7 linked regions of the Homo sapiens genome follow. The protein of the gene in region 2 interacts with the protein of the main gene of each other region in a pairwise test. Each region holds a gene or a part of one and is shown on either strand. Other genes may lie near its edges.

Region 1 (3,500 bases), on a different chromosome or scaffold from region 2:
CTGGGCCACCTGGACTATGCGGCGGCCAATGATGTTAAAGGCCTCCCGGTGCATTATCCCCCGCACCACTGCTGTCCTCTTGGGCCCAATGTAGCTCATCATGTCCTGTGGGGGTGAGCAAGAGACAGAATGCCCATGGCTCAGAAAAGAAAGCCAAAAAGCACCCTGGCTCCTACTGTTCCGAATCTGCCCCTTTGCCAATGACCAACAGGTTTGCACCTCTCTTGAGATTCATGAGCTATTAACTCAGCATTTCTGAGCTATGAGTATATATTGAGTATTTTCATTTGTCTCCGTTCTCTTCTTTTTCCCAGTTGACATGGGTCCAGGCAGCATCTAACTCTTCAGGGGCTGGTAAAATGGTGAAATGGAAACTCAGAGATGGCATGCTGAGCAAGAAAAGCGGAATAAACAGACAACTGGAGAGTCTGATATAAAAATGGCACATGGCAAAGAAACAAGTATTCATAATAGCATTATTTCTAACAGTAAAACCTAGAAATAATCCAAATGTCCATTAGCAATAGAATGGGTAAATTATGTTTATGTTTATACAATGATACATAGATTCAACTACATAATTATGGATGATTCTCTCACCAGGCTCTGCCACATGAAGGGAATAAAATAAAAGTGGCAGAGGAACATGTGTTATAAGCCACCATTTATATAAATTCAAAAATGTAAAATTAAATACATTGTTTACAGAGATACAGCATATGTGATCAAACTCTAAGGAAAAGCAAGAAAATTACAAACACAAAATCTGGTTGCCTTGGGCCAAAAGGGAATGGAGTATAACCATGGAAGTACACACCGTGCTACTGCACTGCAGTTTGTGAGCTGGGGGTGGGGATGGGGACGTTCATTAACATTTTCTTTAGTGCTTTTATAAAAATTAAATATTTGATTATAAATTTTCTTTTTGAGACAGAGTCTCACTCTGTCGCCCAGGCTGGAGTGCAGTGGCACTATCTTGGCTCATTGCAACCTCCACCTCCTGGGTTCAAGTGATTCTCCTGCCTCAGCCTCTCGAGTAGCTGGGACTACAGGCACCCACCACCACGCCCGGCTAATTTTTGTATTTTTAGTAGAAATGGGGTTTCACCATGTTGACCAGGCTGGTCTCAAACTCCTGACCTCAAGTGATCCGCCTGCCTCGGCCTCCCAAAGTGCTGGGATTACAGGCATGTGCCACCGCACCCGGCCGATTCTTGTATTGTTAGTAGAGATGGGGAGTGCAATGGCATGATATTAGCTCACTGCAACCTCCACCTCCCAGGCTCAAGCGCTCCCCCTGCCTCAGCCTCCAAAAGTAACAGGGACTACCACATCCAGCTAATTTTTTTTATTTTTTGTAGAGATGGGGTTTTGCCATGTTGCCCAGGCTGGTCTTGAACCCCTGAGTTCAAGCAAACTGCCCGCCTCGGCCTCCCAAAGTGCTGGGATTACAGTGTGAGCCACCAGACCCAGCCAGCATTCTTTATTAAAAATATGTGGAGGACGGGTGCGGTGGCTCACGCCTGTAATCTCAGCACTCTGGGGGGCCAAGGCAGGTAGATCACAAGGTCAGGAGTTCGAGACCAGCCTGACCAACGTGGTGAAACCCCATTTCTACTAAAAATACATTACATGGCACATGCCTGTAATCCCAGGTATTCAGGAGGTTGAGGCAGGAGAATCACTTGAACCCGGGAGGCGGAGGCTGCAGTGAGCCGAGATCCCGCCACTGTACTCCAGCCTAGGCAACAGAGCAAGACTCCGTCTCAAAAAAAAAAAAATTTTTTTTTGGAGAGTTTTCTGTAGCAAATGGAAGAAATGGGTAGCAATGATGCAAGAAGGAGGTGACCCAGGAGTCCACGAGCTGAAGGGATAAGGCAAAGTCGCAGCCTCTCTGTTACCTTACCTGGGGAAGAAGTGAGGAGTGTTCAGATATCACGTACACAGTCAGGGAGCCCTCCGCTTGTTCCTGAGGCTCATCTAACATGGCTTCTGCCTCTGGGGGCAAGAACAGGTGGTACACCAAGAGCAAAACACCATTCCATCTCCCCCCAGCCCCAAAGAATGCCTAACCCACCCCTTCACTCACATTCAGCTGACACAGTGGTCAGGCTTGGGTAAGCCAATCAACCTCTCTGGCCCTCAGTGGACTGGGCTGAATCCCACAGTTCCTCATTCCCAGCATTCCAAGAGAGGTTTTGGAAGTAAGCCAAAGCATGGGAACTATGCACTTAGAGATCAGAAGGAAAAAGAGGGCTTCACATTAAAATGGTGTGCTCATCCCTTCCCATACCTTGCACACTGCCCGATGACAGGGCCTCCTCCTCATGGTCCAAAGCCCTCCGATAGGCCTTCTGGAAACGGCATTTGATTTTCATTTTGTCTGGGAGGGATAAGAAGTAGCACAATGAAAAGGGCAAGCATCATGCCTCTGCCCACCTTCCCAGACCTAACACTGTCCAGCATCTGAGGACAGCAAGATGGCTGTTTACAGAAAAAGACCAAGCAGCTGCAGCCAACTCTAATGATTTCTGCATAGATGATATCAAACACATGACACCCATTTCGCCCATCTGCCGCAGCTCTTGCCTTCACCTCTGCACACACTGGTCCTTCAGCGTGAAACGTCTTCCCACTGGGAAATCTATTTCAATAGTCATTACATTAATAGGCAAAAGGAGAAAAACTGTATGGTCATTCCAATCACTGCCCCAAAATAATTAAATTCAGTGAATGTTCCTGATAAAAAACAAAATACACAGGCTGGGCACGGTGGCTCATGCTTGTAATCCCAGCAATTTGGGAGGCCAAGGCAGGCGGATCCCTTGATCTCATGAGTTGGAGATTAGCCTGGACAACATGATGAAACCCCAACTCTACAAAAAATACAAAAATTAGCCAGGTATGTGCCAGACATGGTGGCTCACACCTGTAATCCCAGCACTTTGGGAGGCCAAGGCGGGTGGATCACCTGAGGTCAGGAGTTTGAGACCAGCCTGGCCAACGTGATGAAACCCCATCTCTACCAAAAATACAAAAAATTAGCTGGGTGTGGTGGCAGGCGCCTGTAATCCCAGCTACTCGGGAAGCTCAGGCAAGAGAATCACTTGAACCCAGAAGGCGGAGGCTGCAGTGAGCCGAGATCACACCATTGCACTCCAGCCTGGGCAACAAGAGCGAAACTCCATCTCAAAAAAAAAAAAAAAAAGGCAGTTATGGTGGTGCACACCTGTAGTCCCAACTACTTGGGAGGTTGAGGTGGGAGGATGACTTGAGCCTGAGAGGCAGAGGTTGCAGTGACCTGAGATGGCACCACTGCACTCCAGCCAGGGTAATAGAACCAGACCTTGTCTCAAAAAAATAAAAAATAAAAACCACACACTTAATGACAAAATATTAAACATAATTCTGTAAAGTTAGTAATAAAACAAGGATGCCTGCTATCTCCTCTATTCTCATTGTTATTCAGTATTGTTCTTTCTAAAGTTCTTGACCAATGT
Region 2 (3,500 bases):
TTTTTCTCCTGCTTTAAGCACTAAACCAAGAGTTCTATAAATGCAATAAGCAAAAAAGTGAAAAATGTACTCAGAAGACTATACTGGATCAGTTAGTGTAGAATACTGTTATATTAATTTTTCATTGTATTAGGGTTCTCTAGAGGGATGGAACTAATGGAATATATATGTATGTATATATATTCCAACCCAAAGTGTCTTGGTGGCAATCTTAATATATATATATTGGCAATCTTTATATATATATAAAGGAGAGTTTGTTAAGTATTAATTCACATGATCACAAGGTCCCACAATAGGCTGTCTGCAGGCTGAGGAGCAAGGAGAGCCAGTCTGAGTTCCAAAACCGAAGAACTTGGGGTTCGATATTTGAGGGCAGGAAACATCCAGCACGGGAAAAAGATGTAGGCTGGGAGGCTAGGCCAGTCTCGCTTTTTCATGTTTTTCTGCCTGCTTTATATTTGCTGACAGATGATCAAATGGTGTCCATCCAGATTAAGGGTGGATCTGCCTTCCCCAGCCCACTGACTCAAATGTTAATCTCCTTTGGCAACACCTTCACAGACACACCCAAGATCAATATTTTGTATCCTTCAATTCAATCAAGTTGACACACTCAGTTTTAACCACCACAAATCTACCCCTTGTCAACTTGAACCCGTACACATCTCCTGAGATCACACATAATCTTCAAATAAAGACAATAATTAGGTCATAATTACACCTGATGTAGTACAACTATTCTTCATACATCCGGAAACACACTAGTCCCCAACTGAAACACTCTTACATAAAGTTAACGATACTTAAATGCTGATGTGAAGTCAATAAATCTTATGTCACATGATAAAGGAGAAAGGAAATAAAATGAAGATATTTTCTTAGTACAAGTGTGTGCAAGCACAGACATGTTTTTAATAAAAGAAGGAGGAAATACTGAGGACAATTACAGTCCTCATTTCTGCAGCTGGTCACATGGTAGTAGCTGGTATTGATGACTACCTTCTTCTACCCATTTTGTATTCCTTTTGCCTTCAGCAAACACCTCAGCAGGTTGTGTTTTTTTTTTTCCTGATGGAGAGGCCCAAACCATTTGTAGTCCCGCCTGGATTGGGCTGTTGTAGTTGCCCATTGACCTTAATCACAGGGCATGGTAATACTAAGAGACGCCCTAATGGATCTCCTGTATTCCATGAATACTCTTTCTTACCTCCGTTCTGGAGTAGTAGACTGATTTCATCTTGATAGCCTGGGTCTTGATAGCCTTGATGTCCCAGCCAACACTGTAACGCCTTTCTTAGCCTGTTTACTTAAAGGTAGGAACCCAAAGTGTCCTGGTGGCAATCTTAACTACCAGTTTAATGGAATTGTTGTTGTGTCTTCTGATGGCAGCGTTCCTCCCTCTGGAACTAAGACCTCTAGGCCAGCAGAACTTAATGTTACGGGAACAGGAAGCAAACATTTTGCTAGTGGATCACTAGGGGTGATGGTGAGTGGTACCACTTCCATTTCCACCCCTTGATTCCTGGACCTGTGAATCCTGGCTATGGGAGAAACAGTACCACATATTGGACGCTGATTCAGAGCATACACAGCCTTCTTGAGAACTTTGCCCCAACCCTGCAAAGTATTCTCACCTAGTTGGCATTGTAATTGTGACTGCAAAAGGCCATTCCACCGTTCTGCTTCAGGATGTTGGGGAACATGGTAAGACCAGTGAATTCCATGAGCATGAGCCCACTGCTGCACTTCTTTAGCCATAAAGTGAATGCCTTGGTCAGAGGCAATGCTGTGTGGAATACCATGACAGTGGATAAGGCATTCCATGAGTCCGCGGATGGTAGTCTTGGCAGAACCATTGCATGCAGGATAGGCAAACCCATATCCAGAGTAAGTGTTTATTCCAGTAAGGACAAACATCTGCCCTTTTCACAATGGAAGAAGTCCAACATAATCAACCTGCCACCAAGTAGCTGGCTGATCACCCTGAGGAATAGTGCCATATCAAAGGCGCAGTGTTGGTTTCTGCTGCTGGCAAATTGGGCACTCTGCGGTGGCAGTAGCCAGGTCAGCTTTCCACCGGCCCATCTTGTTTTCTGCACTGGGAAGGTGGGGCATGAGCACAAATGTTAGGACCTGAAAGGTGGTGAACTCTGCCTGGGCAGGGCAAAGCCAGAGGAAACTCTGGTGGAGGTCCGTAGCAGTCCTGATGTGCAAATCGGTCATCCAACCTGGGTGTAGGGGCGAAAGACTAATTGAACCATCTAGTAGCTGGTTCCCTCCAAAGTTTCCCTCGGGATAGCTGGCACTCTCGCAAAAACCCCACTCTTGGTACCAATTTACTGTATTAGTCCATTTTCACGCTGCTGATAAAGATATCCCCGAGACCGGGAAGAAAAGAGGTTTAATTGGACTTACAGTTCCATATGGCTGGGGAGGCCTCAGAATTATGGTGGGAGGCAAAAGGCACTTCTTTCATGGTGGTGGCAAGAGAAAATTAGGAAGAAGCAAAAGCAGAACCCCTGAGAAACCCATCAGATCTCATGAGACTTATTCACTCTCATGAGAATAGCACAGGAAAGACTGGCCCCCATGATACAGTTACCCCACTGGGTCCCTCCCACAACACATGGGAATTCTGGGAGATACAATTCAAGTTGAGATTTGGGTGGGGACACTACCAAACCATATCATTCATCAAAAGGTGTTGGTGGGGTAGAGGGTAGTTAGGATGATCCATGATCTCCATCATGATGATGATGGTATTGATGATGTAAGTCACTGAAAATATTTGGTGTTATAAGAATAATTTCTTCCTGATTGTCAGTTTTGAGTTGTTTTGCTATTAGGAGGCAAAGTAGGGGGGCATATACCCACTTAAAATATTTTAATTCTGGCTAGTGGAAATGACAGTAATGCCTTCTTCATAATTAAAATGTCACTCTGAAATGGTCCCAAATTAAAACTTCTTCCTTTGTTGTTAAGAAGGATCTCTTCTTGGTGTGTTCTGCAAGATTCTGATCACCTTTTTTTTTTTTTTTTTTTTTTTTTTTTTGAGATGGAGTATTGCTTTGTCATCCAGGCTGGAGTGCAGGGTGCAATCTCGGTTCACTGCAAGCTCCACCTCCCGGGTTCACGCCATTCTTCTGCCTCAGCCTCCTGAGTAGCTGGGACTACAGGCACCTACCGCCATGCCCGGCTAATTTTTGTATTTTTAGTAGAGATGGGCTTTCACCTTGTTAGCCAGAATGGTCTGGATCGCCTGACCTCATGATCCACCCGCCTCGGCCTCCCAAAGTGCTGGGATTACAGGTGTGAGCCACCACACCCGGCCGATTCTGATCATCTTTTATACATATGCTATTTTTGTCTATCACTTTAGGAATCATCACAGATCAAGGTCATCCTTTTGGTTTTTGTGATAGCGCTATACCTCAGTCAGCTTACTAGCTCATCTCCACTCAGAGATGAAGAAGCATAGGCAGCAAGTTAGTGCCTAT
Region 3 (3,500 bases), on a different chromosome or scaffold from region 2:
CCTGTGTTCCCAACATGGCCTCTTGGGCTCAGACACAATTTAATGGAGTTGCCTCAGCTTCTCTAACAGCAAATCAAATGCCAGGCTGAGGTTGTGGGCTTATGGAGACTTCTTGAGCTCACACCCTCTCAAGTAGCCTGAGGAAAAGAGGCCCAGACCACTGCTGTTTTCATGGCTCTTGATACTACCAAGAATGAAGAAATGCCATAATGGTGCTTTTGGAACTGTTGTCAGTGTATTTTTATAACTTTATATATCCCCCCCCCTTTTTTTTTTAGAGAAAACAAAATTCTGTATTTGTGAGTTAATATACGTAAAGTATTTAAAATAGTGCTTAGTGGCCAGGCACGGTGGCTCACACCTGTAATACCAGCACTTTTGGAGGCCAAGGCAGGCGGATCACCTGAGGTCAGGAGCTCGAGACCAGCCTGGCCAACATGGCGAAACCCCGTCTCTACTAAAAATACAAAAATTAGCCAGGTATGGTGGCACACGCCTGTAATCCCAGCTACTTGGGAGGCTGAGGCAGGAGAATCACTTGAACCCGGGAGGTGGAGGTTGCAGTGGGCTGAGATTGCACCGCTGCACTTCAGCCTGGGTGACAGAGCGAGATGCCATCTCAAAAAATAAATAAATAAATAAATTAAATAGTGCTTAGCACACAGTAAGCACAACATCAGTGTTTGCTGTTTGCTGTGGGAAGCTGAGGGCAGACCCAAGTCGACCTGTGCTCTCCCCTGCCCACCTCTCTGTAGAGGGAGCCTCCTCCTTCCTCATTCTGGGGCATGTTGAAGCACATGTTTCTCCTGCCCACCAGAAGAGGGAGCCCTCAGTAAGGGCACACAGTTGGGGAGGTGGTAGAGGAGATGTGCATTGGTTCTGCCTTGGGCTTGACTTTCCTAGGTCAGGGTGTCCCAGTCTCAAGATTTTGAATTTACAATTGAACCCCTTCCCCATTAACATCTGGCCCTTGGATACTAAGGCATGGGCTGTCTAGGGTCGTCTAACATTTGTTATCTAACAAACCGACCTTGGAAGTCAGCTACCTACCTCTTCCCTCACTGTCCATATGACAAAACTCAGCACTAGAGAAGTAGGATTTGCCCAGAGAACTGCCGTGGGTCCATGGCACTGCTTCATGTAGTTATGTGGCATTCAGTAGAGTCTGTGATAGTCGGATGTGACCTTTGGTTCCCCACCTCTTGTCCTGCATCAGATTGTCTCCCAGTGGCTCAGGGACCCATGCAAACACTTGTTGGACTCACTCATTGACCCTTCTGTCTTCTCCCCTCCAGGTGACAAATGTGGATGATGAGGGGGTGGAGCTGGGCTCTGGGGTGATGGAGCTGACGCAGAGTGAGCTGGTGCTGCACCTGCATCGGCGTGAGGCCGTCCGCTGGCCTTATCTCTGCTTGCGGCGCTATGGCTACGACTCCAACCTCTTCTCCTTTGAGAGTGGCCGCCGATGTCAGACAGGCCAGGGTGAGTACCAGGCCCTGCTCCACCCTGGGATAGGGGCTTATGCAGTACTCCAGGGTTCCTAATGTATAGGTTAGCCCTCAAGAGGTTAGTGTTATCCCCATCACCTGTGGGCAGTAGAGTGTGATGTATTCTCCCTGCAGTCAGAGGTCAGGGGTGGTAGGTTATTCCATAAGGTCAAGGCTAGAGCCAGCCACAGCTCTCTGAAGAAGTGGCATGGTCTGAGTTTATCTCTTAGGATCCAGACTTAAGCTGTGCAAAAGGAATCCTGCATGGGATTGTGTTCAGTGCAGTTTGGGATTATGGCTGTGCAGAGGTGGAATGAACAAGCTTCTCTGATGAGGCTGCCAACAAAATAGTGAGCCTCCGAGGTCATGTTTGCTGGAGGAGACTTCCCTCCATGCATCTTACCTTTGGAATTCATGAGGCAGAGGCAGGGGCGCTGGGTGAGCAGGCAGAGCAGGCAGAGGCATCCTTGCTCCTAGTGATGTTTGATCTACACTTGGGTTCCCAGAGGGGCTACCCCTGGCCCCAACACGGGGTTCTCTACAACTCCAGTCTTTCCCAGTCTTTTCTACTTCTCGTCATATTTTGCCAGAGTAGTTATTTTTCTTCCCTGTTTCCTCCCCATCCTATTTGTGCAAACCATAGTTGTCCCATTCCCCAGGCTAATTGTGTCTTAGTTGTGGGTATATGCACAGGCACACCCCACGTAGCCTCCCCTAGGTCCCAGGTCCCCCTGTTACAGAGGAGTCCATGCTGGCCCAGTACCCCAAGGGCATCTTTGAGTCCCCTGATTGACAGACACTCAGCCCAGTCCTGCTGTTCCTGGGACCTTGAGTTGCAGTGTTGCAATTTGAAGGGCTGTGAGGCTGGCTGCATTGAGGAGCCTTGTGATTGCCTTGCCATGTTTGCCTTTAGCTAGTCTGCCCATGATTTCTTCCTTCCCGTGCCAGAGTTTAATCTATGAGGTTAGGGACCTATATACAGTAGGCATTTGCTTTCTGGCCACACACTGGGCTAATAAGTGAAGAAGCAGGGAACAGAGTAGACCCTCTTGTCATCAGCGATCTGAGGGCTGGTGCTCTGGATGGAGTTTTTTTTCCTAGGAAGCAGGGGGTGTTAGGCAGAGGAAGATGGGGGAAGCATGTGAGGTAGAGTGTTCGCTCACCTGGCTGGGCTCAGTGGCTCACACCTGTAATCCCAGAACTTTGGGAGGCTGAGGTGGGCGGATCACGAGGTCAGGAGATCGAGACCATCCTGGCTAACACGGTGAAACCCTGTCTCTACTAAAAATACAAAAAACTAGCTGGGCATGGTAGCGGGCACCTGTAGTCCCAGCTACTTGGGAGGCTGAGGCAGGAGAATGGCGTGAACCCGGGAGGCGGAGCTTGCAGTGAGCTGAGATCGCACCACTGCACTCCAGCCTGGGCAACAGGGTGAGACTCCGTCTCCGAAAAAATAAAAGAAGAATGTTCACTCATCTAATACTATCCTTTCCACCTTGGCTTTTGGTTTTGTTTTTTTTCTTTTCTTTTTTCTTTTTTTTTGAGACAGAGTCTCGCTCTGTCACCCAGGCTGAAGTGCAGTGGCACAATCTCGGCTCACTGCACCCTCCACCTCCGAGGTTCAAGCAATTCTCCTGCCTCAGCCTCCTGAGTAGTTGGGATTACAGGTGCTCACCACCACGCCTGGCTAATTTTTTGTATTTTTAGTAGAGACAGGGTTTCACCATGTTGGCCAGGCTGGTCTTGAACTCCTGACTTCAGGTGATCCACCCTCCTCGGCCTCCCAAAGTGCTGGGATTACAGGCGTGAGCCATCATGCCCGGCCTCCACTTTGGTTTTGATTCTCTTCTTGTGACCCCTGAACACACACATCCTTATGAAAATGATTTCGCTTCAGAGCAATATAGCTGGAGTGTTCAATGTGGTGTGGGCGTGCTGGGGCAGGGTACCTTGGACCCAGCCTTTCTAGTAGCTCTTGGATTCTAGAGCAGACCTAGAAAGAATGCTCAGGGC
Region 4 (4,024 bases), on a different chromosome or scaffold from region 2:
CTCTGCTAATTTACACCATGGTCTTCCATCTCAGTTCTTCCCCAGGAACATAAGGAATGGTTCCCAAGAAGGAAGGAGTTGAACTAGAAATTTGTCAAGACCTACACAAAGCTGGGGGTAGGGGACAGGCAGACAAGGTGACAGCTGCGCTGCAGGACCCTCCACGCCTTCCCTATGGAGGGGCTATGGGAAGCCAGACACTTTTGGTTTCTGGGCTGAAAATAGAACCTTTTGGGAAGACTGGAACCACGCAGGAGGAAAAGAGCAAGAGGTGCACCTCTCTCCACACACGGGCGCCGAAGGGAGCCCAGAGTGGCCCCCACGTCCAGGGGCCACGGGAAGGAGAGGCAGCCGCAGAGCCTCCGAGCTGGGTGTGCAGGTGAAAGGCAGGCCCTTGAGGTGGGCACCACAGGCTCACTGAGGCAGGTACTCAGCTGGGAAGGCTTGCTTCAGGGTGAACATGAGAAAGACAATCTCCTCGTAATCATTGGCTTCGTACAGACACCCAAACAAGGGGGACCCATCAGGGCCGGTGCCCATGCTCTGGAGGTCTGAGTAGGCACAGCTGCCCTTGGCCAGCAGTACCGGCTCTGACCAGGCCTCAGGGGCTGGAGGTCGCGGGTTGAGGTAGGCACCCAGGTCGGCCCTCTGCCAGGAGTGTGTGGGGTGAGTGTAGAGCAGCCACTGGGCTGGGGAGCCAGGCCCCGAGCGGGGGCTGGGGAAGCTGATGACGCTCCCCTGGCAGCCCTGGGGCGGCGGCTCCACCAGCTTCTTCACCAGCTGAGACTCCTGGAAATCAAGCCCGTCATTGGTGCTCTGGGCCTGGACCCTGGCTCGGAGGTGGCTTCTCGCGTTGAGGGTCACCACCCTCTGCTCCCCAGTCTCGACTTCGGCCACCTGGCACTCCAGGGTGTCCTGGGCCACAAAGTGCCCTCGCGCCCACGTGCGCCCATGGTCATGGCTGAGGAAGCAGAAGGCAGAGGGGATCGGCCTTTGGATGGGGTGAAGTTTCCGGTAGGCGTAGGCGGGCACCACCAGGCTCCGGGCCCTGTCGTGAAGCTGCAAACAATGCCCCGGGCCCACTGCAAAGGTGGACCACTCCCGGTAGGCTGGGCCGATGGCCGCATCAGTGAGGTCTCTGGGGGAGCTCCAGGTCCTCCCGTGGTCAGTGCTGGTGACTTGGCACAGCCGCGTCACATTGGCCCTGGTCTGCAGCTGCTGTTGCTCCGTGACTTGCCCAGGGATGGCAATGAAGAAGAGGAAGAGGGTCCCCGTCTGCGCGTCATACAAGGGGCATGGGTTCATGGACCGGTGGCCATCCAGCCGGGCCTGGGCCACCACCTCCTGAGCTTGCCACTGAGTAGGGAGAGAGAAAGAAGAAGGCAGCCTTGAAACAGCTGGGGATGGTGCCAGGAGCTGCATGAGTGGGAGGGGTGGGCACGGGTGTGTCTCCCGGGTTAGAGTCAAAAGTCATCGAGAAGAACTCTTCACCCAACACTCATATCCTCCTTGCAACGTTTCCCCAGAGCTGCGGGGCCCAGGGTGCCACCTCACCCCTCCAAGGCAGCCACACTCGGCTGAGTGATTCTGTTCCTTCCATTGCCATCAATATGCATTTACAGAACACCCACCTGCCAGACCACAAGATATGAAGATGACTCGTGCATGAGCCATTCCCAACTTCATCCTGGTTCCTCCACTTCCCACCCCAGTCCAGCTCACCATCCTTGAATAGCAAAGCCCTGGCGGAAGGTGCAATAACCTGACCAGTACAAGACAGAATGTGACGGTCACCTCTCACCTTCTACACTCCATATCCTACTCATGTAGCCAAGGAGGAGTCACATTGAGCTTCCAGAATCCCCAAGTCTATGTCACATGTGCTGTCTGTCCCCATTTATTAACAGCTACCCCCATTGGGCAATTCTAAGCACAGACACAGCACCAAAAGTCTAACATCCATGGTCTCATCTAATGCCTCAATCCCCAGGGAACAGGTGTTAGTAGCTCCATTATTACAGTGAGCAAGAGACCGCGACAGGGAGGAGGAGTTGCCTAGGCCACATCTGTGGTCAGTGGCGGAACCAGGACTTGAACCCAGGTCCATCTGCTTCAAATCCCATGCTTTGAACAGCTGTGTAGTAATGACCACAAAGGAATGATAATAATATTAAACTCTTCAAATATGATCAGCCAGCCTTGGGTGCTGTCATCAGGATTAATTATTTAATCTATAAAATGGGACTTTAGGACACAAGCCATCACCCCACCCCAAGTCCCCAAGTTAATTTTACTCAAAGGACACAACCCTCCATTATGCAACACTGAACTATTCCTCCGTGAGGTCATCACGGATGCTGGGCAACTCATTCAATCTTTCATGAAAACAGATGGAGGCCAGCTGGACTAATTCACAGTGAACCCAGAGGTCCAGGGAACCATTAGGGGCACTTTCTCTGCTCTATCTCTCCTCCGGAGTACAGCCATTGAGGGATAAAGTTGTCCCTGTATTTCTTGAGATCCAGGACTGGCCCCTGATCACAGCAGCAAAGGGTGTGGCAGAGCCCTGGGGAGCCAGTGCAGACACCTCCTGCCTCACCTGAACCTGGTGGGTGGGTGCGTCGTAGTCTCCTCTGCGCAGGACAATCAGCTCTGCGTGCTCATCCTTCTTGCTTGCCCGCTGTTCCGCGAAGGCCAGCAGGGACTGCTGCCCAGGCAGGTAGAGCAGGGCAGGGATTCTGTAGGCATGGGCTCCCGACTGGAACACGCTCTCCTTCTGCAGGACAGGAAGGGACGCCATGGGGCTGGGGGGTGGACAGGAAGAGAAGATGTGTCACCTGCAGCCACACCTGAGATGGGCTCAGAGTCATTCACCAAGACAGGTGGTGCTCACCCCCTGGCTGAGTGGACCAAAGTCAGGGCGGCCTGTCCTCTTCCCGCGTGGGGTTCATTCTCCTTTCCTACATCTCAAGACCCTGCTTCTTAATTCTGCCTTTGCCTCGGTGGATATCGGGAGGGGGTATTGCAAAAGCGTGTTTTGGATTCGATTTTTATTCTAAGTTAACAATGCTCCTTACAACAGATTTTCGATAACCTCCAGCTGCTTTTGCCAAACCCAGCCCATCAATCCAGGGGCAAACCTCGGGAGGACAGCAGTGCAGGCCGGGTGGCATTCGGCAGCTGCCCAAATGCCAGAAAGTGACACATGGGAGCTTTTTATAACTCCAGAGCCCTAGAAAGTTGTTTCAAAGAAAAGGAAAAAGAAAAAGCATGGCTTCTAAGGCTCTGCTCCCCAGGCTGCCTGAGGCTGAGGCCCGTCTGCCCCCGCTGCTGCGTGGGCTCCCCCTGAGGCAGCGAGGGGGCGGCGCTGCAGTGGGAAAGGAAGAGACAGGGGCTCCTGACAGCTAACCCAGGCTGGGGGCGTGGGGTGCTCCAGAGGTCTAAGAAAATAACAATTAAAAATAAGTCTTCAGCTAAAAAGGGTAGGGAGGGGACAGAGGTAACTTGGGGACAGTGGGTGACAGTGATTTTCGGGCTAAGCTGCCTAGGTCCCTTTAGGAGGATGCATCCCGCAGCTCTGGGGAGTGTTGGCTGCAGGGCCCTGGCCTGGGGAGGATGGGCCAGTTGTTCCCAGATGAAGAATCTGCCCCAGGTCATACCCAAGAAGGGCTGCTTGATGATTGGTCCACTCAGAGCCTGAAGACCCTCTTCCTGAACTCCTGACCAGGAACAGTGCGGCTCCGGAGCTCCCTCCGGGCGGCTGGGCCTTCCCTGAGACTGCATTACAGCCGCCTCTTTCTCTGCTGCTCCTCCCTTTCCCCCAGAGGCTCTTGCCTGCCGTGGGTCTCCGTGTCAGAGCCGGCGTCCTGGGCACCCCGTCTGAGACACAGCCTTTGCAGAGGGCAAGTGGGCAAGAGGCCAGCAAGAGGGGCAAGGTTTGCCTTTGTGCACCCTTTTGTACTGCTCTCATTTTTCTACCACATGCATGCGTTATCTATTTAAAACTTAGCTTCTTTGAGAAATA
Region 5 (3,500 bases), on a different chromosome or scaffold from region 2:
CCCACAGGGCCTCCCTGCCTCTGGAGCTGGGCCCCGGCCATTTCCAACAGGCCCAAGCTCCCCCACCCACCTCTCCACCCCGCCGTCTCTGTCTTATTCTGACCCCAGAAGAACGGGCTCCTTCATTTCCCTACTTCCTCTACAGCACCTGCTGAGAAACTCTGAGGATGGAAAATCCATCAGGACGCTTTCGGTGTCAGTGCCAAAACCCCAAATGATGCAGGAGGGAAAGAGAACCTACGAGAAGCCGGCGCAGAGCGACTCACAGAACTGGGTGGACGATCAGCTCCGGGCTGTAGGCCTTAATCACAGGTGCGGCCGCACTGGCACAGAACACGTGGGACAAGTCTGCGCCCTGATGAAGGAGCACAAGAGGCCGACTCAGGGATCGCTCCGGCATCGCTGCCCACCCGCCAGACACAGGCGTCCAGCGCTCATTACTCAGCCCTGGTGACGTGCATGAGAAACGTACTAGCTCGGATTACACCCAGCCAGGTGGCTTAGCAAAGGGCCAGGGCGCAGAGCACAATACCTAAAAAGAAAGACTTTTGCCGCCACTGCAGAGGCAGGGTCAGAGCCACACACACCAGCACGGCCCAGCTCGGTCTGGTCACCCTCCAGGAGGAAGGGTCACAGGAAGAGGCCGGCCGTTAGCACTTGCTCAGCTCATGGGAAACTGCAGGATCAGCGGCTTCAGCTGCGACCTACAAAGGCATCCCAGGTGCACTTTGGTGGAGTACAATACAAATCACGCTTTAGGTTTTAAAAATGGGCTTCAATTGAGGCCAGGTGCAGTGGCTCACGCCTGTAATCCCAGCACTTCGGGAGGCCGAGGCGCATGGATCACGTGAGGTCAGGAGTTCGAGACCAGCCTGACCAACAGAGAGAAAACCTGACTCTACTAAAAATACAAACAAAATTAGCCAGGCGTGGTGGCAGGTGCCTGTAATCCCAGCTACTCGGGAGGCTGAGGCAGGAGAATCGCTTGAACCCAGGCGGCGGAGGTTGCTGTGAGCCGAGATCCCGCCATTGCACTCCAGCCTGGGCAAAAAGAGCGAAACTCTGTCTCAAAAAAAAATGAGCTTCAACTGAAGTGATCTTGTTTATGCACAGATGTCAGGATAGACTTAACGGTGTTTCTATTAGCTATGATTACCCTAAGATATTATTTAGATTTCTATCAGAAAACATTTGCTTTAATCATATTTAAATAATCAAACTCTCTACCAGAAAAATCCCAATAAAGAAATTTTAAGTAAACATACCACTTTGAGAGCTGAGATTGCTGCAAAATATGGGGCTCCAGTGTACCTAAAAAGAAGGTATTTAGAGTCAAAAACTTCTGAGAATAAGGTAAGCATACCTTGATCAATAAATAGGTTATCAATAAAAAATAGACATAAATAATATAGACATGGTTTATCAATAAATAACAGAGACATGAAGCACACAGCACAAACCCAACACCTAAAAGATGCTCAGCAAATGTTCAATGAACATGAACCAGGTTCGACTAGAAATGTCTTTTTTTTTTTTTTTTTTGAGACAGAGTTTCACTCTTGTTGCCCAGGCTGGAGTGCAATGGCACGATCTTGGCTCATTGCAACCTCCGCCTCCTGGGTTCAAGCGATTCTCCTGCCTCAGCCTCCTGAGTAGCTGGGATTACAGGCATGCGCCACCACACCCGGCTAATTTTGTAGTTTTAGTAGGGACAGGGTTTCTGCATGTTGGTCAGGCTGGTCTCAAACTCCCAACCTCAGGTGATCCGCCCGCCTCGGCCTCTCAAAATGCTAAGATGACGGGCATGAGCCACCGCGCCCAGCCAGAAATGTCGATCTTTTACATAAAACCTTCATGCATTTCAGGAGAGTGAATCTCTGGCAGTAATGCCTGCAGTCTCCCTGCAATGTGAATGTTCAAGGTAAGGAGCTGACCGCAGGCTTCTGCCTGGAGAGAAGAAAGTGACAACCACATGTTCGGAGCAGTCGGGCATGGACAGGGTCCCAGAGTGGGCAGACCCCGTCCTCCAAGAGTCACAGTCAGCAGAGGCCAGATGGGGGCCACCTGGGACAAACAAGAAACGGCACCCACCACCCAGCTGCTTCCGCCTGGCTGTTCTGGAATCCCTGGCTCTCCAGGTCTAAGGGCACTTCAGGCACAGAAAGGAAGAGCCCTGCCCTCCGTCAGATGGGCAAATGCAACCTTTATGTCCATTCCGAGCAGTGAAATGTTTTGCTAACCCAAGAAAGAGAGACCTGGGCAAATGCTGATACCCATCACCTTACATGGCCTTCTCCTGCAAAGCGGTGTCAATAGCGTTGTAAATGCAAAAGACAGTACAGAACAGGCAACATACATGCACACACTCTTCCATCATGTGAAAACAAGCCTCACTAATAAGAGAAATGCATTAAAACAACAAGAAAGCTTGTCGACTTCACTAGCAAAGGTTGTCCTCCAAGGGCTGCAGGGAACAGGTGCTCTTGGGAGGCAACACACACTAACGCAATGGGGGGACAATTCGGCAGCGTCACCAGCATGTAAAATGCACACATACCTGATCCAGTAACAACTCTAACACACCCTATGGCACGATCAACAGCTGCAAATGGAGGGATGGGCAAAGAGAGATACCACATCCATGCAAACAGAAAGCAAGCAGAAACAGAGGAGCCACGGCAGGCTTTCCGTCAGAGGCAGAAGGTATCCTTCACACCCAAGGACAACTTACAAACAGCTACGTACCAAACACAGCAGCAAAACAGAACAGAAGCAAGCTAGGGATTTGTCAAATTTCATAAATGACTTTCAGTAACATCTTTAAATTGACAAAGTAAACCAAGAGGTTGCTGAGTGTTTCTATCCTAAATACAAAAAACATGCTTGTGGTATGAAGTCCAGTTAAATACAGAAAAGCAGAAAGTGGAAAAAACAGGCTCATTTCCCCACTACGACAAAACTTAACACTGACACACATGAGGGAGTAATTCAGTCAGGGCTCCTCAGAGTTATTTCCTAGTTAATCAAAAAGTGGATCACTGAAAAATACTGAGTGTCCTATCAGGCTGCATTTGGAAATGATTACTGAGGTCAAACTAGACAGCGTGAATGACAGTCAGGTAAGCAGCCAGCCAGCAACTGACTTTTTAAACACCAACACTGCACATCAGCTACTTACTCCTGACAGCCTCCAACTACGCCTATTCTTCCATCTTGCCCTTTGTGCTTTGTGGAAGACAGAGGAGGTATGATATTTCTCACCAGCTGCAAAGTATTTTCCATATCCTTTATCGAATGTGCTTTACGTAGCGAAAACGCTCTTTCTAAAACTGAAAGACAAGAAAAATGAATAATTCAGAAAGGTAAACAGATATTGTTAGTACACATAATAGCCCATTAACCAAAACCCTCTCCAAAGTTATTACGAATGCTATAGATTTTTACCCAATGGATTTCTGTAAGCAAATATGATGTTCAAAATTACATTAACACATGCAATT
Region 6 (3,500 bases), on a different chromosome or scaffold from region 2:
GGGTTGTCCCCCTTCCGATTCCCCACAGTTTCACACATTCATAGTTTTGGGTGCCAAGCCTGCTCCAAGGTGACGAGGTGAGGACAGCGTCTTGAGTACTTCTGTATCTAACATGGTGCTGGACACTTGGGACTTGGTCAGCAGAAGCCAGCGTTCAAGTTTCTGCATGACACTGTTCCAGCCCCCTGGTCTCAGTTTCCCCAGAGACGGGGCTCATCATACCTATGGCTAGAGAGGGCCAGGCATTGATGGATGGCCCAGGAATGAGATGAGACCACTCCAACCTCCCAGGGGTTGGGGAGCATGTTTTTGCGGCAGGCAGGGCTGTAGGGGCCATCAACTGGCTGTGTGATCCTGAGCAAGTCACTTCACTGCCCTGGGCCTTGGCTATTCTAAGGGCATGGATCTGTGGGCTCCTGCCTGTAAGGCCCAAGTCACAGGGGACTAGAGGCCGTGAGACAAGAGTCTGAAGTATGGCCCGAGGGCTCCAGGTCAGGCACACAGGCCTCTTCATTGGGAAGGGGTTGTATAACCCTCACTGTTGCTGCTCCCTGGAAGCCCTCCGTGATCTAACTGCCTACTCTACCCCTCAACAGGTGGAGATCTTTCCTGCTGTTCCTTAATCAGGACATGGGTGTTGGGGGCAGACATCCTCATTAGAATCCTGCTTGTCCTAGACCCTCCGAGCTCTGCACATGATTTATGCCCAATAGGTCTTTGGAAATGAGGTAGCGGGAGGGAGATGCAAATCAAAATAGGATATGGTAAGAAGGGGGCTGCCTGGTCGTGCAGATTGGATGGATCATGGCTGGTGGGGTGCCTGGCACATAATGGGTGCTCAGTATACACACTAGCTATTGGAGGTCTTCGGTGTCAATTCTTGGACTGAATGGGCAGGGTCGCCACAGGCGCATTTGAGGATGTACTGCGTGCCCAGCCCTGTAGAAGAGTAGTGAGATGCGCCCCCTCCTAGGCCCTGTGCTGGCTCCCATGGAGAGACAGGGCTGGATTCCCCCGCCAGGGGTGGGCTGGACTGGCCTGGTGGCCTGGGGCTATGGCCGGCGGAGGCGTGGCCTGACTCACCTGCTTTAGGTGTTCTGATCTGCTTCCCATCCCCAGCTGTTCCTGACCTTCTCCCCCACTCCTCCTCCATGGTCTCTACTAGGACATGCTGTTGTGCCCTTCTCCCTACTCTGGCTCCCCTTCCCCTGTGGCCCAGGCCCACCTTGGTTCCCACCTGTCCCTTTGTCCCCTCCTTGACTTGAGCTCATTGGTTCCTGGCCCAATTCAGTGAGACTCATGACGATCTCTTTCATCCCCGGGTCCCAGACACTCTTCGGCTCTGGTGTCCAACACTCTCGTCCTTTCTGGCTCTCAAGCCCTTGTCCTCCCTGACAGCCCCTCATCCAGGCTCAGGCTGCAGCTGCTCCCCGAAACCAGTGCCACTCGACAGCGTCACCCCATCCTGCCTATTCCCCCTCAGCTGCCTACGGGACGTGCCACTTCCCAGATGCCTCAGCCACCCACTTTCCTGTCCCTGAAAGACCCCCTCCCAGTTCCTCACTCCCAGCATGGGTACCGCTGTTCTCAGCTTTCACCTTTTCCTTAGTTTTGAATTATCTTAATTATTGTTATTGCTTTTTCCTGCCCCCCCATCCAGCCCCTGTTCCTCCCACAATTCCCCCTTCCCATCTTTGTTTCTGTGTGTCCCCTCTGCTGTCCCCTCTTAGCCCAGGTCCTGCCTGGCTGTACAGCATTCTTGGGTGGCACCTCCAGTACTTGGGCGCTGTCTCAGACTTCCTCAAACCCCATCTGCCTCTTGCCTCACTTCTCCAAAACCGCCATTCATCCCCTTTCCTCTGGGTGACAGGCCACGTGATACGCTATGCCTGTACTCTGCATTCAGTTCCCATCCTGCCACTTCCTTGCTGTGCATTCTGGCCAGGTCACCATCCCTCTCTGAACCTCAGGGGCCTCATCTGGAAACCAGGTGGAGGAGCGCATCTCCCTGCAATTGTCCCGAGCTTCCAGGCCATGACACCTGTGGAGTGGTGGGCTGGCGTGGATGTGGCCTAGCGCTTGGGAACCTGACATGCTTGTGGGTTTGGGGCTGAAGACTTGGCCGCTCTCTAGGGGAGCCAAGCTTTGCTGGGCTTGCAGGCTGGCCTGAGAGCTGGCCCACCAACCCTTTCCTGGGACTCCCTTGGTCCCTGGATGTTAATCACATGGCTGTGAGCCTCCGTCCCCTCAGTGTCACCGCAAAGGCTGAGCGTGAATCTGAACAGGCCCCTGTGCCAAGGCACCGCCCCGGGGAGCCAGGCCCTGGGTCGGGGTTTCTGCAGCCTCCCTAGAGGCCTGGGCCCTGGCAGCCCGCTGAGTGGTCCCAGTGTGCCCTCCCAGCCGTCTCCTTCGTCCAGTTTCAGAACCACCCTTGCTGTCCCCTCCCCTGCTTATTGAATGAATCCATTGTGCCCATGACCAACAGGGGTCTTTAGTTCCAGGAGGTAACTGGACAGGGTCATCTTGGGCACTGGTTGAGGAATAGGCTGGTCTGGCCACTGGCCAGGCCCTGCTGGCTTGGGGACACTGAGAGACCGAGGGCCACGGAGTCTAGGTCTCCTTCTTATTTTGTGGGTCGGGGCAAGAGCCCTGCTGGCCCTCCTAGGGTGGGCCTGGTGGGGTGAGGATTGTGGTTACTGCATTTTCTTTTGGTTGTGTGTTTCCTGGGGAAGTGACCCGTGGGGCCTTTCCTGTATGAACTGCCTGGGCCTCTCGGCAGTGGGAGCTGGCTTTGGGATGGGGGATGTTGGCTGGGTGCCCCATCTACCTCTGACCTTGACTCCTACCCTCTGAACAGGCTCCTTTCCAGAGGCATCTGTGGCTCATCTCAGATGCTGGGCTCTGTTTCTGCAGGGAACGGGGACTGAGGAGGTTTGTACAGAGAGCGGTGGACCCGGACTGAGGAGGGTAGGGACGCTGGGCAGCAGAACATTAAGTGGTCCCTGCTTGCCCCACGACTGAGTTCACCACTGACTTGGGTGTTCACAGCCAGGTTTTCAGGCCTCTGGTCTGGGAGGCTAAAGTGTGTGTGAGATTGGAGATTCTGGCTTGGGCTGGACCCGAGGAGCCCAGGGTCCCTTCTTTGAAATTTCTGAGTCTCAGGAGTTGGCCTTGCAGCCTGGAAATGAGGAGGAAGAGGGTCTGCAGATTCTGGCTACCCTCCAAGGGCAGGTCAGGCCCTTCTTCCCTCCTGCTCCTGCCACCTTTGGCGTTGGGGAGTTGGTGGCTACTGGGTGGTCCCACTGTTCCCATGTTCCCACACTTCTTGCCATTGGGATTTGGCCTTGGGCTCTTCTACTGGGGGTGATGGGAAGGATGTCACAGACTCTGTCACAGGCCTCCTGGACCACTGTTTCCTCTGGCTACAAAATTGGGCCCTGTCCCCACTCTGCCCCACAAGGCAAAAATGAGAGCCTGTTGGGAAAATGGTGAGGTCAGCC
Region 7 (2,831 bases), on a different chromosome or scaffold from region 2:
GTAGTGCAGTGACATGATCAAGACTCACTACAATGTCAACCTCCCAGGCTCAAGTGATCCTCCCACCTCACCCTCCCATGTAGTTAGGACCACAGGCACATGCCACCACACCTGGCAATTTTTCGATTATTTGTAGAGATGAGATCTCCCTATGTTGCCAAGGCTGGTCTCAAACTCCTGTGCTCAAGTGATCCTACTACCTTGGCCTACCAAAATGTTGGGATTACAGACATAAGCCACCACACTTGGCCTTCATTTTCATTCATTCAACAAATATGTATTGACACATTCTACTCAGTACAAATTCGTGTATTATACATTCTATATTCTTATATGGAATATATATTTTTATAGAATATATTAAATGGAATATATAGAATATATCCTTATATGGAATATATAGACTATATTCCTGTATGGAATATAGGTATGGGGATAGTATTCACAAAACAAAAACAAAAACAAAAAAAAACAAAAACTGAAGTACAAGGAGATGAGACTTTTGTTAAAATATCTTTTAATTTTACCGGCAAAATACATCAATGACTAATATATTCCCGTATGGAATATATTCTTATTGGAATATATTCTTATATAGAATATATAGACTATGTATATATACATATGTGTATATACCTATATACATATATATATCTTGGAGATATAAAACTAATTGGGAATAATGTCATATATATAGATAGTAAGCAAACATTTTTTAAAACATTTTAAAGACTCCAAACTATTCATTTCTATCCACCTATAAAAAACTAGCAATTAAACCTGTCAAATCACAGCCATCTTGCTTTACGCAGATTCAGAAACATGAGATCCTTTTACCTTTGAAACTCTAGTTTCAAAGCTGTTCTAAAGTGACTTGGTTTTAATTTATATACTTGCAGGGATAAGAAGTAGCTGTAGGGCCATAAAAATGTAAAGAATACAGTATCGTGCCCATACACAACTGCAAACACTTATTTTTAAGTGTTCGTAAAAGATAGTGGTCTTCAGAAACACCCCTTTTCAGATTGGCAAACTTTCAGAGTTCAAAAGTGCATGTATTACACTTTTATCCCCAACAAAGCTAGTAGCTACCCTCTAAAGCAGAGGTTAACATTTTCTTTTTCCAAACCACAGAATGGATTATGATCCCATGTGCATACTCCCATGGTTCCCTTCCCCAAGTTGTATGAAAAAATAAAGCAAATAATTCTGAGGTTTTAGGGGTAGTGGTATAGGGATAGTATTCACACACAAAAAAACTGAAGTACAAGGATATGAGACTTTTGTTAAAATATCTTTTAAAGTAATTTTACTGGCAAAATACATAAATGATTAACCAGTTTTAAAATAGTAAACTTATTTATTTATTTATTTTTGAGACGGGGTTTCACTCTCTCACCAGGCTGGAGTGCAGTGGCATGATCTTGGCTCACTGCAACCTCCGCCTCCTGGGTTCAAGCGATTCTCCTGCCTCAGCCTCCCGAGTAGCTGGGACTACAGGCGCACACCACCACACCCAGCTAATTTTTGTATTTTTAGTACAGACAGGGTTTCACCATGTTGGCCAGGATGGTCTTGATCTCTTAATTTTGTGATCTGCCAGCCTCGGCCTCCCAAAGTGCTGGGATTACAGGTGTGAGCCACCATGCCCTGTCAAAATATTAAACTTACTAATACATTGTAATTTTTAGTACTTCTATAATTACTGCTTCATAAAAAAGTGGATTTTTCCAGCTCTCCAGTTCAGATGCTATTAACAGGTAATCAGATAGCACTGACTAAGTAGAAATAGATTAAGAGTAATACCTAAATTTAATGTATTTTAGCATATTGAAATGAGTATCATCAGTGTATATTTCATTTATCACTTTGTCTACACTTTATTAGGTGGCCTTAATGCTTGTCATTGACAAATGTTAACTTTCCTCACAAAACCTACACTATTCACTTTTTTCCAGTATTTTTACCTTCCTTATTAAAAATGTTTCTACCATCAAGAATTTAAAATAGAATCATGACATTGCAATCCAAACACTACCTTGGCTTGCCAGATTAGTCTACGTGTCACTCCTTGGTGTAAAGCTATAATTCCAACTTCCAGCAAAGAAGTATCTCTGAATTCAAATGAGAATGACATTTCTATGGGAATAAATGTGAACTGTCTCACATTTAACCATTAAGAATTTACTCATACGTCATCATGATAACCTAATGTTAGACTGAGAATCACTGCTCTAGTGTGGCTCCAGAAGCTGTCAGTCAGGAACTACTGATACGATTTCACTTGTCCAATAATTTTATACTTCCATCTTGTAGTACAAAAACATTTTAATTTTGGCCTGATAAATGACTAAAACAATTGCCGGGGGAATTCAGAGAGACACGTTTCATTATTCAATTCCTAACTGAATTGACCCTCATTGATCCTCAGACTAATTTAGACACTTTTCAATAACATTCACAGTCAATCTCAAAGAGAATATTATTTTTGAATTCTTGCTATTGAAGTTAACATTTACATCTAAAAGAAAATCATCATCCTTATTGGACAAGTAGAACTCAAACAAACAAACAAAAAAACTCTAGTCATAATAATGAAAATACTGAGTTTCTGATGTACAAAGAGTAAAATATTCATATACTGGAAAAATGGTGCAGTATAAATGGGCAAAATTTCACTCTTTCTAGTAGGAAGTCAATAAATAATTGATGTATCAAAAAGTAGCGGTATAATCATACAATTTGGAAATATAAATTCTTCAACTACTAGAATTGAAAGAGGAAGTTTCTTCTGTCAATGTGAAAGAGGGACTGCCTCTTTTTTTGTCACA

The links.
Region 1: the proteins of NOTCH2NLA (region 2) and PIGS interact in binary tests that used the Homo sapiens proteins (3 or more experiments, as listed by UniProt).
Region 3: the proteins of NOTCH2NLA (region 2) and FRS3 interact in binary tests that used the Homo sapiens proteins (3 or more experiments, as listed by UniProt).
Region 4: the proteins of NOTCH2NLA (region 2) and NEU2 interact in binary tests that used the Homo sapiens proteins (3 or more experiments, as listed by UniProt).
Region 5: the proteins of NOTCH2NLA (region 2) and NAXD interact in binary tests that used the Homo sapiens proteins (3 or more experiments, as listed by UniProt).
Region 6: the proteins of NOTCH2NLA (region 2) and RAB3IL1 interact in binary tests that used the Homo sapiens proteins (3 or more experiments, as listed by UniProt).
Region 7: the proteins of NOTCH2NLA (region 2) and UTP23 interact in binary tests that used the Homo sapiens proteins (3 or more experiments, as listed by UniProt).

The regions. Positions count from the first base shown.
Region 1 is NC_000017.11:28,561,525-28,565,024, forward strand, and holds part of PIGS (GPI-anchor transamidase component PIGS), read right to left. Parts: intron 2,384-3,500; coding exon 2,294-2,383; intron 1,999-2,293; coding exon 1,907-1,998; intron 106-1,906; coding exon 1-105. UniProt on the Homo sapiens protein: Component of the glycosylphosphatidylinositol-anchor (GPI-anchor) transamidase (GPI-T) complex that catalyzes the formation of the linkage between a proprotein and a GPI-anchor and participates in GPI anchored protein biosynthesis.
Region 2 is NC_000001.11:146,159,522-146,163,021, reverse strand, and holds part of NOTCH2NLA (notch homolog 2 N-terminal-like protein A), read left to right. Parts: intron 1-3,500.
Region 3 is NC_000006.12:41,773,401-41,776,900, reverse strand, and holds part of FRS3 (fibroblast growth factor receptor substrate 3), read left to right. Parts: intron 1-1,295; coding exon 1,296-1,482; intron 1,483-3,500. UniProt on the Homo sapiens protein: Adapter protein that links FGF and NGF receptors to downstream signaling pathways. Involved in the activation of MAP kinases. Down-regulates ERK2 signaling by interfering with the phosphorylation and nuclear translocation of ERK2.
Region 4 is NC_000002.12:233,031,448-233,035,471, reverse strand, and holds NEU2 (sialidase-2), read right to left. Parts: upstream 2,801-4,024; coding exon 2,600-2,800; intron 1,357-2,599; coding exon 415-1,356; downstream 1-414. UniProt on the Homo sapiens protein: Exo-alpha-sialidase that catalyzes the hydrolytic cleavage of the terminal sialic acid (N-acetylneuraminic acid, Neu5Ac) of a glycan moiety in the catabolism of glycolipids, glycoproteins and oligosacharides.
Region 5 is NC_000013.11:110,622,045-110,625,544, reverse strand, and holds part of NAXD (ATP-dependent (S)-NAD(P)H-hydrate dehydratase), read right to left. Parts: intron 3,330-3,500; coding exon 3,179-3,329; intron 1,312-3,178; coding exon 1,266-1,311; intron 356-1,265; coding exon 267-355; intron 1-266. UniProt on the Homo sapiens protein: Catalyzes the dehydration of the S-form of NAD(P)HX at the expense of ATP, which is converted to ADP.
Region 6 is NC_000011.10:61,911,067-61,914,566, reverse strand, and holds part of RAB3IL1 (guanine nucleotide exchange factor for Rab-3A), read left to right. Parts: intron 1-3,500. UniProt on the Homo sapiens protein: Guanine nucleotide exchange factor (GEF) which may activate RAB3A, a GTPase that regulates synaptic vesicle exocytosis. Promotes the exchange of GDP to GTP, converting inactive GDP-bound Rab proteins into their active GTP-bound form.
Region 7 is NC_000008.11:116,772,354-116,775,184, reverse strand, and holds the end of UTP23 (rRNA-processing protein UTP23 homolog), read right to left. Parts: 3' UTR 501-2,831; downstream 1-500. UniProt on the Homo sapiens protein: Involved in rRNA-processing and ribosome biogenesis.